Linked DNA regions of Homo sapiens. The protein of the gene in region 4 interacts with the protein of the main gene of each other region in a biochemical or structural test. Each region holds a gene or a part of one and is shown on either strand. Other genes may lie near its edges.

The links.
Region 1: the proteins of PNN (region 4) and RNPS1 form a complex in vitro, tested with the Homo sapiens proteins (3 studies listed by BioGRID and IntAct).
Region 2: of the proteins of PNN (region 4) and CSNK2A1, one has a biochemical effect on the other in vitro, tested with the Homo sapiens proteins (one large-scale study listed by BioGRID and IntAct).
Region 3: the proteins of PNN (region 4) and KRT8 form a complex in vitro, tested with the Homo sapiens proteins (one study listed by BioGRID).

What each region holds. Positions count from the first base shown.
Region 1 is NC_000016.10:2,261,627-2,265,128, reverse strand, and holds part of RNPS1 (RNA-binding protein with serine-rich domain 1), read left to right. Parts: intron 1-368; 5' UTR 369-485; coding exon 486-556; intron 557-797; coding exon 798-953; intron 954-1,841; coding exon 1,842-2,033; intron 2,034-2,286; coding exon 2,287-2,389; intron 2,390-2,697; coding exon 2,698-2,851; intron 2,852-3,502. UniProt on the Homo sapiens protein: Part of pre- and post-splicing multiprotein mRNP complexes. Auxiliary component of the splicing-dependent multiprotein exon junction complex (EJC) deposited at splice junction on mRNAs.
Region 2 is NC_000020.11:471,997-474,895, reverse strand, and holds the end of CSNK2A1 (casein kinase II subunit alpha), read left to right. Parts: 3' UTR 1-2,398; downstream 2,399-2,899. UniProt on the Homo sapiens protein: Catalytic subunit of a constitutively active serine/threonine-protein kinase complex that phosphorylates a large number of substrates containing acidic residues C-terminal to the phosphorylated serine or threonine.
Region 3 is NC_000012.12:52,899,382-52,902,076, reverse strand, and holds part of KRT8 (keratin, type II cytoskeletal 8), read left to right. Parts: intron 1-4; coding exon 5-213; intron 214-857; coding exon 858-918; intron 919-1,393; coding exon 1,394-1,489; intron 1,490-2,011; coding exon 2,012-2,302; intron 2,303-2,695. UniProt on the Homo sapiens protein: Together with KRT19, helps to link the contractile apparatus to dystrophin at the costameres of striated muscle.
Region 4 is NC_000014.9:39,178,254-39,180,988, reverse strand, and holds part of PNN (pinin), read right to left. Parts: intron 1,899-2,735; coding exon 1,743-1,898; intron 1,666-1,742; coding exon 1,527-1,665; intron 487-1,526; coding exon 1-486. UniProt on the Homo sapiens protein: Transcriptional activator binding to the E-box 1 core sequence of the E-cadherin promoter gene; the core-binding sequence is 5'CAGGTG-3'. Capable of reversing CTBP1-mediated transcription repression.

The DNA.
Region 1 (3,502 bases), on a different chromosome or scaffold from region 4:
GTTAGGTTTTTCTCTGTTCTGCATGTGAATGTGGTGCTGTGGCATTTTGAAAGGACTGCAGGGGCTCATCAAACTTGTGGGTGAAAACTGAATTGTTCAGCCTGTAAAATAACAGTGATGGTCTCCACCATCTCCATTTTTTAAGAAAAAGATACGCTGGGGCGACAGTTGTACCTGTGCCTCCTCTGCGGGGTAGAGACGCCTCCAGGAGCACATGGGGACTGTCCCTATGTGTTCCTGACTGTGTGGACACTTATTGCTTACCGTGCTCCCTTGCTGCCTTTTTGTGTGCTCAGCTTTTGACTGCAAAGTAGACTTGTTGCCTTGCCAATTCGTTCACTCTTTAAACCCTTTTATCTTGTTATTAGGCTGCTCTTTGGCGTAAATTGCAATCGATTAGGGATCGTTTCTCAGAATCAAGTTAGAAGTGAGAGTTCAGATAAGTGAGGCCGCCATTGCTGCTTTGAACACCTCAGAAGGGGAGAATGGATTTATCAGGAGTGAAAAAGAAGAGCTTGCTAGGAGTCAAAGAAAATAATAAAAAGTCCAGCACTAGGTAATCCTTCTGTAAGATTTTTCTAGTGCTACTTGGGGGTGCTTACTGCTAGGGACCCGCAGAAAGGGGAAAGTTGAGAATGTTCTGCATTCTACAGTGAGTGTTCTGAGCCACAGACCACTTTGCTCTGTGGTCACCTCGGGTCTCTGTGGCCCTGCTGATGCTGATCCCCCGTTTTGGGTTGTGCTGTTTGGGTTTGGTCAGAGGAGCACGCAATCTCACACTCTTCCTCACCATCCAGGGCTCCTTCACCTACCAAACGCAAAGACCGCTCAGATGAGAAGTCCAAGGATCGCTCAAAAGATAAAGGGGCCACCAAGGAGTCGAGTGAGAAGGATCGCGGCCGGGACAAAACCCGAAAGAGGCGCAGCGCTTCCAGTGGTAGCAGCAGTACCAGGTGGGGCGGGCTGGCCTGGAGCCTGGAGAGGACCTGTGCCACAGCTACACCCCCACTCCCCACAGATGGCTCGGTTTTCTTGATTATTTACAAAGAAAACACATCCTCTGATTGTTAGTAGAGACCCTAATTTATGGCAGACTGGCTAGGTGCAGTGGTGGCTCATGCCTATAATCCCAGCACTTTGGGAGGCCGAGGCAGGAGGATTGCTTGGGGCCTGGAGTTCAAGACCAGCATGGGCAACAAAACAAGAGCTCGTCTCTACAAAAAAAAAAAAAAAAGAGTAATTTGTAAAATTAGCTGAGCGTGGTGGCATGCATCTGTAGTCCCAGCTACTTGGGAGGGCTGAGGCAAGAGGATGGCTTGAGCCCAGGAGTTTGAGGAAAATAAACAAAACTAGCCGGGTGTGGTGGTACACGCCTGTACTCCCAGCTACTCGGGAGGCTGAGTCAGGAGGATGGCTTGATTCCAGGGGGTTGAAGCTGCAGTGTGCGGAGATCATGCCACTGCACTCCAGCTTGGGTGGCAGACCCTGTCTCAAAAGAAAAAATCAACCTAGCCTGGGTCAGCATCAGCCAGCAGCTGCCTTCCCAGCCTGAGTTGGCAGTTGTGACTTTTGCCAGAGTCCTTTGCCTCCCAGCAGGAAAGGCTTCTGTATGGGTAGAAGGCAGCCCATCACCTCTGTCCTGTCCCACACACAATGTGACACCTAGGGCTCTGACTTGCTGGGGGATTGGGGGGTGATGTTTTCCCCACTGCTGAAAGCAGTGAGGCCTGGAGGCACCCGAACAGCAGGTTTCTCCTGGGGGGAGCACAACAGAATTGGAGGAGGCGTCTGTACTGTGAGACTTGGTGTGTGGTGGTTGTGACCCCTCATCTTGCCCTCAGGTCTCGGTCCAGCTCGACTTCCAGCTCAGGCTCCAGCACCAGCACTGGCTCAAGCAGTGGCTCCAGCTCTTCCTCAGCATCCAGCCGCTCAGGAAGCTCCAGCACCTCCCGCAGCTCCAGCTCTAGCAGCTCTTCTGGCTCTCCAAGTCCTTCTCGGCGCAGACACGACAACAGGAGGCGCTCCCGCTCCAAGTGAGTGCCCTGCGCCTGGGAGCTAAAGTTTACAAGCTCGGGGCTACAGATTTACCATCGAGGTTATAAAAGGGACCCAAAAGGAGTCTTTCTGTGTTAATAGGATTTCTGAGACAGGAATAATGTATGTGAACTAGCAGGAAAGTCTTCCTTATGAAAACTGTCACACAAGCAGATAAGAGCTTACTCGAAAGGCGTCTAGTACATTTTGACTTGACAGAAATTGTTTCTGGTGTTTTGTTTTCTCAATCAGATCCAAACCACCTAAAAGAGATGAAAAGGAGAGGAAAAGGCGGAGCCCATCTCCTAAGCCCACCAAAGTGCACATTGGGAGACTCACCCGGAATGTGACAAAGGTGAGGATCATGGATCTCTCCTGTGGGCAGTGGGGTGTGGACAAGCAGGCCTGTGCCTGCAGATGAACTTAGAATGTAGCCTTTTGGAGGACTGGGGTGGTGGCATGTGGTTTGAGTACAGCATTGATTCGTTCCTCTTGGTGGACCATTAATACATGTGTCTGGGAGATTTATCCCAGAACAACACTGGTACTCATCAGATGGAATGTTTTACCCTGCCGAGGTTTTAGTCATGATGTGCTGAGCTCTCTGCGTCTGACGTGACTGACTGGTAGCTGGGCGTTGGCGTGACCCTTCTTTCCCTCTAGGATCACATCATGGAGATATTTTCCACCTATGGGAAAATTAAAATGATTGACATGCCCGTGGAAAGGATGCATCCCCATCTGTCCAAAGGCTATGCGTACGTAGAGTTTGAGAATCCAGATGAAGCCGAGAAGGCGCTGAAGCACATGGATGGAGGTGGGTGACCCTGCCACATAACCCTGACCTCTCAGAGACCCGCCGCCGCGAGGGGCTTTCAAACTGATTTCCAACTGGGCTGCACTTCTTTTTGTTTGTTTGAGACAGAGTTTCACACTTGTTGCCCAGGCTGGGGTGCAGTTCCTGGACCAAACTGAGGTTTGGGCTGCTATTTCTCATGGCCCAATAACAAGATGCACATTAACTGAGTAGGTGGAGTTTTTATTTCTGCAACCAGTTGCAGGGAAAAGGCCTGGAAATTATTGCCAGACCAACTTAAAATTACAAAGTTTTTCAGAGCTTATATATTTTTTAAGCTATATGTCTATACATATGTGTACATTTATGTAAAGACATAAGTTACTGACTTTTAATCTATTAACTAAGGATTGAGTCTTGAAGACCTTCCTCTGGAGCCTCAGTAAATTGACTTAATTTAAATGGCTGTGAGTGCTGGGGTAATTACCCTTGCTTTGCCTTCTGCTAAATCACAGCAGTTTGGGGAGTTTTCTTCCCAATAAAACTGGCTTAATCCTAAATGGGTCCTGACGTATTCTTCGTTATTTTATGTTTTAAGGCCCAGGAAAGGCCTAAGCTAAACTTTTGGTGGGCTTTTCTTATATCCCAGCCTTTGTATAAGGGCCTTGGCTT
Region 2 (2,899 bases), on a different chromosome or scaffold from region 4:
TTAACTCAGCAGGAATGGGAAAAGTTATGAAAGGAGGGAAAACTAAATATCATACTGCTGGTTCAGCTGTGATTAGAATTTACGTAGTCATAATGGAAACACTGAATACTGGTCTAACCAGGATTACAGTATGATGACAATGGAAAGAGGAGTGATGGGAAATGCTGGCATGTGTGGTGGTGTTGGTAACAGGACAAGCGGTCTAAGCTCTAAACTCTCATCATTTATAAGGGGAACTAATGCCTAAAACTGAAAAATCAAACAGTTGCATGTTATTTTGAGATTTTTTAAATTATTGTTAAGATAGTAGCAGTATTTACTTTTAAAACTATATTTATGTATTACTCTGGTGAAAAAGCAACTACTTTTAATAAATGGATATTTATCTTGAATGCATCCACTTCCTCCCATTCCCGTTGCCAAATTCCTCATCCCAGCCACCATCCTCTCTTGCTTGGAGTATCATAGCAGATAACTGGTCTTGATGCCTTCCCATCTCGTCTCAATTCCTGATTCATCTGACACCTGCAACCAAAGATCTTTCAAAAATAAATATTCTAGTCCAGGCACAGTGACTCATATCTATAACCCCAGCATTTTGGGAGGCCAAGGCCCGATGATCACTTGAGGCCTGGGTAACACAGCGAGTCCTCTGTTCTACAAAAAATGAAAACATTAACTAGTGTGGTGGTGTGTGACTATAGTGCTAGCTACTGGGGAGGCTGGGTGGGAGGATACGTTGAGCCCAGGAGTTGGAGGCTGCAGTGAGCTATGATCACATTGCTCTCAGTGAGACCTGGCTGACAGAGTGAGAACCTCTCTCTTAAAAATAATAAATAAATTTTATCTCAGTCCCTTGCTTAAAAGCCTTTCAAAGACTAGATCACTTGCAATGTTGTTGTCTCCTCCCAAGGGAGTCATTCCTCCCTTCCTCTTTGTTGACAGAGCCCCAGTTTGAGGGACAGCGGGATATCCACCATGCTGCTGTGAGACTCGGGCAGTTGTGACTGGTTTAGAAGTGGATACACAGGGAGAGGTCTTCTGGAAAAGGTCTTCTGGAGAGCTGAGATCAGAAGACAATCAACTGGCTTCAAATCTAAGGAGAGACAGGCACAAAATGGAAGAGATGACATGGGCACTGGTTACCTGGTAAACACAAGTGGACACTGGTGAGGGACTGGGTCATGGAGACTGCAGTAGTCTTTACCCTTTTCAGCGTTTTTCACCATGAACCCCACTGGGAGCACACAGAAGATTGGAGAAAGTTTTAATAAAATGTCTCAAGATCTGGAAGAAGACAATGGCAGCTACTGTGAAAGGATCACAGTGCTCCACCCAGACCCTTCCCTGTATCCCCTACCGGACAAAAGCCTTAGTCTGTGGAGGGAAGGACACCAAATCCTGTCACCCCCTTGGATGAAGCTCCCTTGCATCTGGGGGAATGAAACAGGAACAAAACAAAACTTTCCCTGGGCAGGGGCAGGAATACACACTGGGCCCAGAACTGGGGGAGGAACAGGAGCACTAAGGAGGACATAACCCCAAAATCAGAGACACAAAGGGCCTGACAGAGACTGAGACTTGATCAGAACAGAGAATTCCCTCCTCCCCCACCTGCCAATGGTAAGCTGACAAGCCTTGAGTTAGAAGTAAAAATGTTACAGGAGAGAGACAAGAGTATGGGAAGAAGACCCTTTCTGAGGGTCACAAAGGGAGGACCTAAAGCTGAGCAGGGAGCACACATGGAAGGAGAAAATCCCTCTGGCAGGCCAGCCTGCACCCTCAGTCCAAGGTGTCATTGGAGGAACTGGAAGCTGCTGCATTGGGGGTAACCATAGCAACAATAAACCTCAAACCTAGCCCAACTCTTTTTTTTATTTACTTTTTAGAGACAAGGTCTTGCTCTGTTGCCCAGGCTGAAGTGCAGTGGTGTGATCGCAGCTCACTGCAGCCTCAAACTCCTGGGCTCAAGCAATCCTCCTGCTTCAGCCTTTGTAGGAGATTGGTCAGGGTGGTGGGAGAAATTATAGGAAAGACACAAACCTTCTTGGAAGGCCGAGAGGTTTTGCAAAAGCTTCAGAAAGAAATTATGGCTGAAGGCAGCCAAATTCTTATCTGAAGCCTGAGAGCAAAGGGCAGATAACAGGGGAGTTGTATAGGAACTTACCTAGATAAATTTGTTTATTCCTGTGTCCAGAAACCAACCTTTGATCATTCACACACAGGACTGCTGTCTACTTGGGATGTTGACAATGTTTATTGCCCACAAATTGTGTTTGCTCCAAGCCTTTGTCATTAAATTTGTGCTAAATAAATGTGAGGGCCACCAGCTTAAGGGGACTGCTAACTCTCTTCGGCCCCTAGTGCTGGCAGTCCCCTAGCCTGCTCTCTCACTGAATATCTGTGTCTGAGTACTCCTTTCATCTGTCACTCGGCCAAAGTCTGTGGGACAGACTCGGCAGGTGATTCCCTGTGTGAGGAATGCTGCAACAGATCACGACGGAACCCTCGAAAATGAAGGTGAAGAGACTGCGCAGTCAGTAAGTCATTGGTGCCTGTTCAGCATTTCCAAGTTCAAAGGAATTGCTCAAGCTAGGGACGATCATCATGGGATGACAGTTGTCATCATGGGACAACAGTTGTCAGCTCAACAGCAACAGTATATAAAAGTAGTAAAACAAATGCTGAAAGTTAGCAGAGCCTCAGACAGGCTCAATTATGGGACCTAATGCAAACTGTTGTTTCCCATAACCCATGGCTCTCGGAAGAAGGTACACTAGACGTAGAGCTCTGGGAAGAAATTTTAACATCATGAGCAAGGGCAATGGGTCTCAGTAACATCTTTAACGTTATGGGCTTTAGTTAGGACTGCTTTGGTCCCACTCTACACAGAAAAGCC
Region 3 (2,695 bases), on a different chromosome or scaffold from region 4:
ATAGGTACGGTTCCTGGAGCAGCAGAACAAGATGCTGGAGACCAAGTGGAGCCTCCTGCAGCAGCAGAAGACGGCTCGAAGCAACATGGACAACATGTTCGAGAGCTACATCAACAACCTTAGGCGGCAGCTGGAGACTCTGGGCCAGGAGAAGCTGAAGCTGGAGGCGGAGCTTGGCAACATGCAGGGGCTGGTGGAGGACTTCAAGAACAAGTGAGCAACTCCCACCCTCCACCCAACTGAAGTCACCGTGCTCTCCTCCACCCCTTGGGACCTTGGGACTAAGTCCCCATGGCCCTCTGTTGTGGGAAGTGCAGTCCTATCTAATTAGGGTGACCACCTGATGAGGTTTGCTCGGAACAGTCTGTGTTTATGCCCAGGTTCCTAGCACAATTGTTGATAGTACCCACCCCCTTTCAATCTCAACTGTCTGGATTTGAAGAACAAATTATGTGTCAATGTTGACATGGTAAACCTGAGACGGGAGAGATAGGCAGCCTGTGGGCCTCACTTTTGTACTTAACATTCTGGCCCCTCTTTAGTCTTGACCCTTGACCTCTAGCAAACTCTAGAAAGTTCTGTCTGAGGTCTCATGTCAGGCCCTGCTGTTAACACTCTCAAGGTGTCCAATCCGATGTGTATTCATGGATTTGGAGAGAGATTTCCTGCTTCCCACGGGCTAAGGGAGGGGTGAGGGTGGAGAGGGCAGCTGGGGAAGGCAGAAGGACCAGCCTTCTCATATCCTGCATCTCTGTGAACTGAATTTTCCTGATTTTCACAACGCCCCTGTCTCCCAAAAGACCAAGGGCAACCTCCCTTTTGCCTTCATCCTCTAATTGTAAGTCTTTTCCTCACAGGTATGAGGATGAGATCAATAAGCGTACAGAGATGGAGAACGAATTTGTCCTCATCAAGAAGGTGAGGGAGTCTCCCTTCTCCTATCTGGACACTGGAGGCTGGGGCTCAGAGACTCAGACCAAGAAGCTTTCTGGGTTTTGTCCCTAAATATTCCTAAGTAGTGGGACAAACTCATTTATGTAAACATTTGGGTGCACAGAAAGGTAGACAAGGATGGAGTGGTAGGTGCATTTGGACAGAACTCTTGACATCGGTGTTGGGACATGGTTCAGAAAACAGAGCAGTAGAACTGGAGATCTGGCTCTAGAAGGCTCCCTAGAGAAGGAGGTGGAAGAGGGTGTGTTGCAGGAAGCAGAGGTGAAGGTGTGTGGGCTGAGAATGCACATGTGATGGGCAGAGGCTGGGCTGGAAGATCAATCCACAAAGTGGGCAACTAGAAAGTCCTGTGACCAGGCCATTGGGTGGACCTTGGGAGCCCCTTGGTTGGGGTTGGGTGTGGAAACCCAGCTCAGGCTCCCCTCTCCTCATCCCCCAGGATGTGGATGAAGCTTACATGAACAAGGTAGAGCTGGAGTCTCGCCTGGAAGGGCTGACCGACGAGATCAACTTCCTCAGGCAGCTATATGAAGAGGTATGTTCCTGGTCGCAGGAGAGTGAGGGTCCCCCAGCCTTGTCAGCGCCTCCACCCTGAGACTCAACCAGAGGCTCCTCCCAGCCCCCAGCACACTAATAAGACAAAGGCCCACTGCTGACTAATTACAGCCACCAATATTTGCTCGGCTAGTATTTATTGGGTCTATATGTTCTGTCCCTCGCATGAGGGATGAGTCATTACCCCATTTCACAGACGAGAAAGTGGGCTCAGAGAAGTGAAATAACGTATCCAAGGTCATCATAGGGTGTGGTGATTCAGCAGCAACTCTGTCCCCAAAGCCCTTGTTCCTAATCTTTGAGCTGCATTGGATCCCTCTGTGCACCTAGTATTGGTGCACCCAGTTCCTTTTTCAGGAACTTTGCCCTCTCCCTGACCCTGACTCCCACCTGCTCCTCTCCTCTGCTGCCCCTGTCTTATACCCTAAGAAAGGCTGTTGTGGAAAAGGGGGCTCCCTGTGTGCAGAGACAGGGCCTCACCACTTGCCCTCTTCCCCCACAGGAGATCCGGGAGCTGCAGTCCCAGATCTCGGACACATCTGTGGTGCTGTCCATGGACAACAGCCGCTCCCTGGACATGGACAGCATCATTGCTGAGGTCAAGGCACAGTACGAGGATATTGCCAACCGCAGCCGGGCTGAGGCTGAGAGCATGTACCAGATCAAGTATGAGGAGCTGCAGAGCCTGGCTGGGAAGCACGGGGATGACCTGCGGCGCACAAAGACTGAGATCTCTGAGATGAACCGGAACATCAGCCGGCTCCAGGCTGAGATTGAGGGCCTCAAAGGCCAGGTATGGGCCGGGTTGGGGGTGGGAGGGGTTCCTTGGACACATCCTGGTGAGAGGAGATAATGTAGGAAGAGTGAAGTTTCTGGGAGTCGGGGAAGGAATCCTAGACCAGGGTTCAGGAGTTGGAGGGGCAGCCACAGTTCAGCTTCTCAGTCTGCTTCTGAGAAGCAAAGGGATGCAGGGAAGGTCCCTTGGGCCAGGACAGAGGTGAAAGGGGACTGGGGCAGGTATGTTGGGGCTCGTGATACATGCTCCCAAGCCTGCTTTAATCAGTCATATGCATCAGGGTAAGGTTGAGCTCTGCTGCTTTAAGGAAAGTCTAGAACCCAGGGATCTAGTCCAGTTAGGGTAGGGGGACCTTACAGTGTCGCAGGTGAGAAGGGTGTGGAGGGGAAG
Region 4 (2,735 bases):
GTTCCAATTCTTTGCTAGCTTCATTTTCTGAAGGTTCTACACTTTCAACTCGATTAGTTTCCATTACCTCCTGGTCAGCAATTACATGTTTGACATTCTCAACCATCTCTAGCACATCCATAACTTCTTCAGGCTGACTATCCTGCTGCTTCTCACTTTCCCTTACCTCAGTTTCCTCCTCCATCTTAACCTCCATTTCCTGTTTTTGTTCTTCCTCCTCCTGTTCTTTCTCTGCATCACTATGAACAATCGCTATTTCCTTTTCCTCTTCCTCTCCTGCTTCCTCTATTTCTACATCATTGTGCTGATTACCTGTCTCCTCCAACTCTTCCTCTCGCTGAGCCACCTTACCCTCTTCTTGTTCCGCCTTCTGTTCTTCATTACGCACCACCTGATGCTCTTTTTCCTTCATTGATTGTCTTCTAGGCCTAGCCTCCATTTTATTTATTTGTTCTGCAAATTCGATGCGTCTACCTTCAAATAAAGCTAAAGAATAAAAATTTACATGTGTAAAATTTACCGATTAAGAAAATTCAAAGCCATAATTTTATAACTGGTCACAAATTGTCATTAAGCTTCATCTGAATTTGTTTTTGTAAAGTTATGACAAAAGATTATGGCAATTAAGTAACCACAAACTGACATAAAATTATAAAAGCAAAGATCCATGGGAAATCTACATACTAGAAATTGTGGCAGACAGAACTACACATTTTCTAACTGATGAAGAAAACAGATCAATCTTTATGTCTGATGAAAAATAAAACTTCTGTAAAACAGAACCAGTTTTGGCATAAAATCATATATATTAATTTTTCTGATCCCAAAGAGATAAATCATCATCTTAGCAGTGTCTATCCTTCCATGTGTTTTCCATCTAGAAACTGAGTTGGTTTTCACATTTGTCTTATTAGCATTTTATCAGAACAATAATAGCATGCAAAAAAAAGTAATTTTACACAAATGCTTAAGGAATACAGATGCATAAGCACTGTCTATAACTTTCACATTAAACTCCATCATGATACAAATATTCCTATACTACAAACTCACCAGCATCTCAGAATGTATCTTTTTTTTTTTTTTTGAGATGGAGTCTAGCTCTGTTGCCCAGGCTGGAGTTCAGTGGCGTAATCTCGGCTCACTGCAACTTCTGCCTCCCAGGTTCAAGTGATTCTCCTGCCTCAGCCTGCCAAGTAGCTGGAATTACAGGTGCCCACCACCATGCCCAGCTAATTTTTTTTGTATTTTTAGTAGAGACTAGAGACGGGGTTTCACCATGTTAGCCGGGATGGTCTCGATCTCCTGACCTCATGATCTGCCTGCCTCAGCCTCCCAAAGTGCTGGGATTACAGGCGTGAGCCACCACGCCCGGCCTAGAATATCTTATTATCTTATTTAAAAAAAAAAAGCAAACACAGCAAACCAATCACTGAATCATAATTATTTTAGAAAACAAACGTGTGCATATGAACATATTACCTTACCCACTATGAACAATTCAATGGACCTCTTCGCATACTTACCGTTCATTTTTCTCTGTGACTCTTCTATTAGTTTTTGGGTAGCTGGACACATTCTTCCAGGAATATAAAACAAATGGGGCTTTGTCTTAGTTCTTATATATTTAATTATTTTGGCATTATGTTCATTCCATTCTTCTTGCTAAAGAAAAGGTAAAGGGTCAGTGCTTTTGTAAACACAAAGGATTACCAATCTTAGAATTCCAAATTACCACTCACCAGCTGCGCAAGCTCAACTTTCTGTTCCAAAAGCCGCAGTTCTGTCTGTTTAGCACGCCTCTCTTCAAACAGTTCTCTCCTTTCATTTTCAACCTGCTTTCTCTCTTCTTCTGCCTGAACTTCAAGTTTTTGTTCAATTTCCTGGCGCCGCTTTTGCTAAAAGTTAAGTAGCCTGCTTTAATACTTACGTGTTGAAATAGTTACAACAAAAGGTATATATGATTTCAGTTCAATTATGATAAAAAGTTATTACACATACTAATTACGTGAAACATTAGAGGCAGGTAGATCATCTGAAGTCAGAAGCCAACACCACCATCTCTACTAAAAACACAAAAAAATTAACAGGGCGTGGTTGCACGCACCTATAATCCCAGCTACTTGGGAGGCCGAAGCAGGAGAAATCACTTGAACCCCAGAGGCGGAGGTTGCAGTGAGCTGAGATCACGCCACTACACTCCAGCCTGAGCAAGAAGAGCCAAACTCCATCTCAAAAAAAATTTTTTTTTTTTTTTTTTTTTTCACTATGTAAAGGTATCTGCAGGCCGGGCACAGTGGCTCACACCTGTCATCCCAGCACTCTGGGAGGCTGAGGTGGGTGGATTGCTTTGAGCTCAGACCAGCCTGGGCAACATGATAAAACCCCATCTCTACAAAAAAAAAGAAAAAGAAAAAAAAAAGGTATCTGCATATGCTTCACATTTTTTCTTTTTTTGAGATGGAGTTTTGCGCCTGTTGCCCAGGCTGGGGTACAATAGTGTGATCTTGGCTCATTGCAACCTCACCTCCAGGGTTCAAGTGATTCTCTTGCCTCCGCCTCCCAAATAGCTGGGGATTACAGGCGCATGCCACCACAGGCGGCTAATTTTGTATTTTTAGTAAAGACAGGGTTTCACCATGTTGGCCAGGCTGGTCTCGAAAAACTTCTGACCTCAGGTGATCCACCTGCCTCAGCCTCCCAAAGTGCTGGGATTACAGGCATGAGCCACTGCA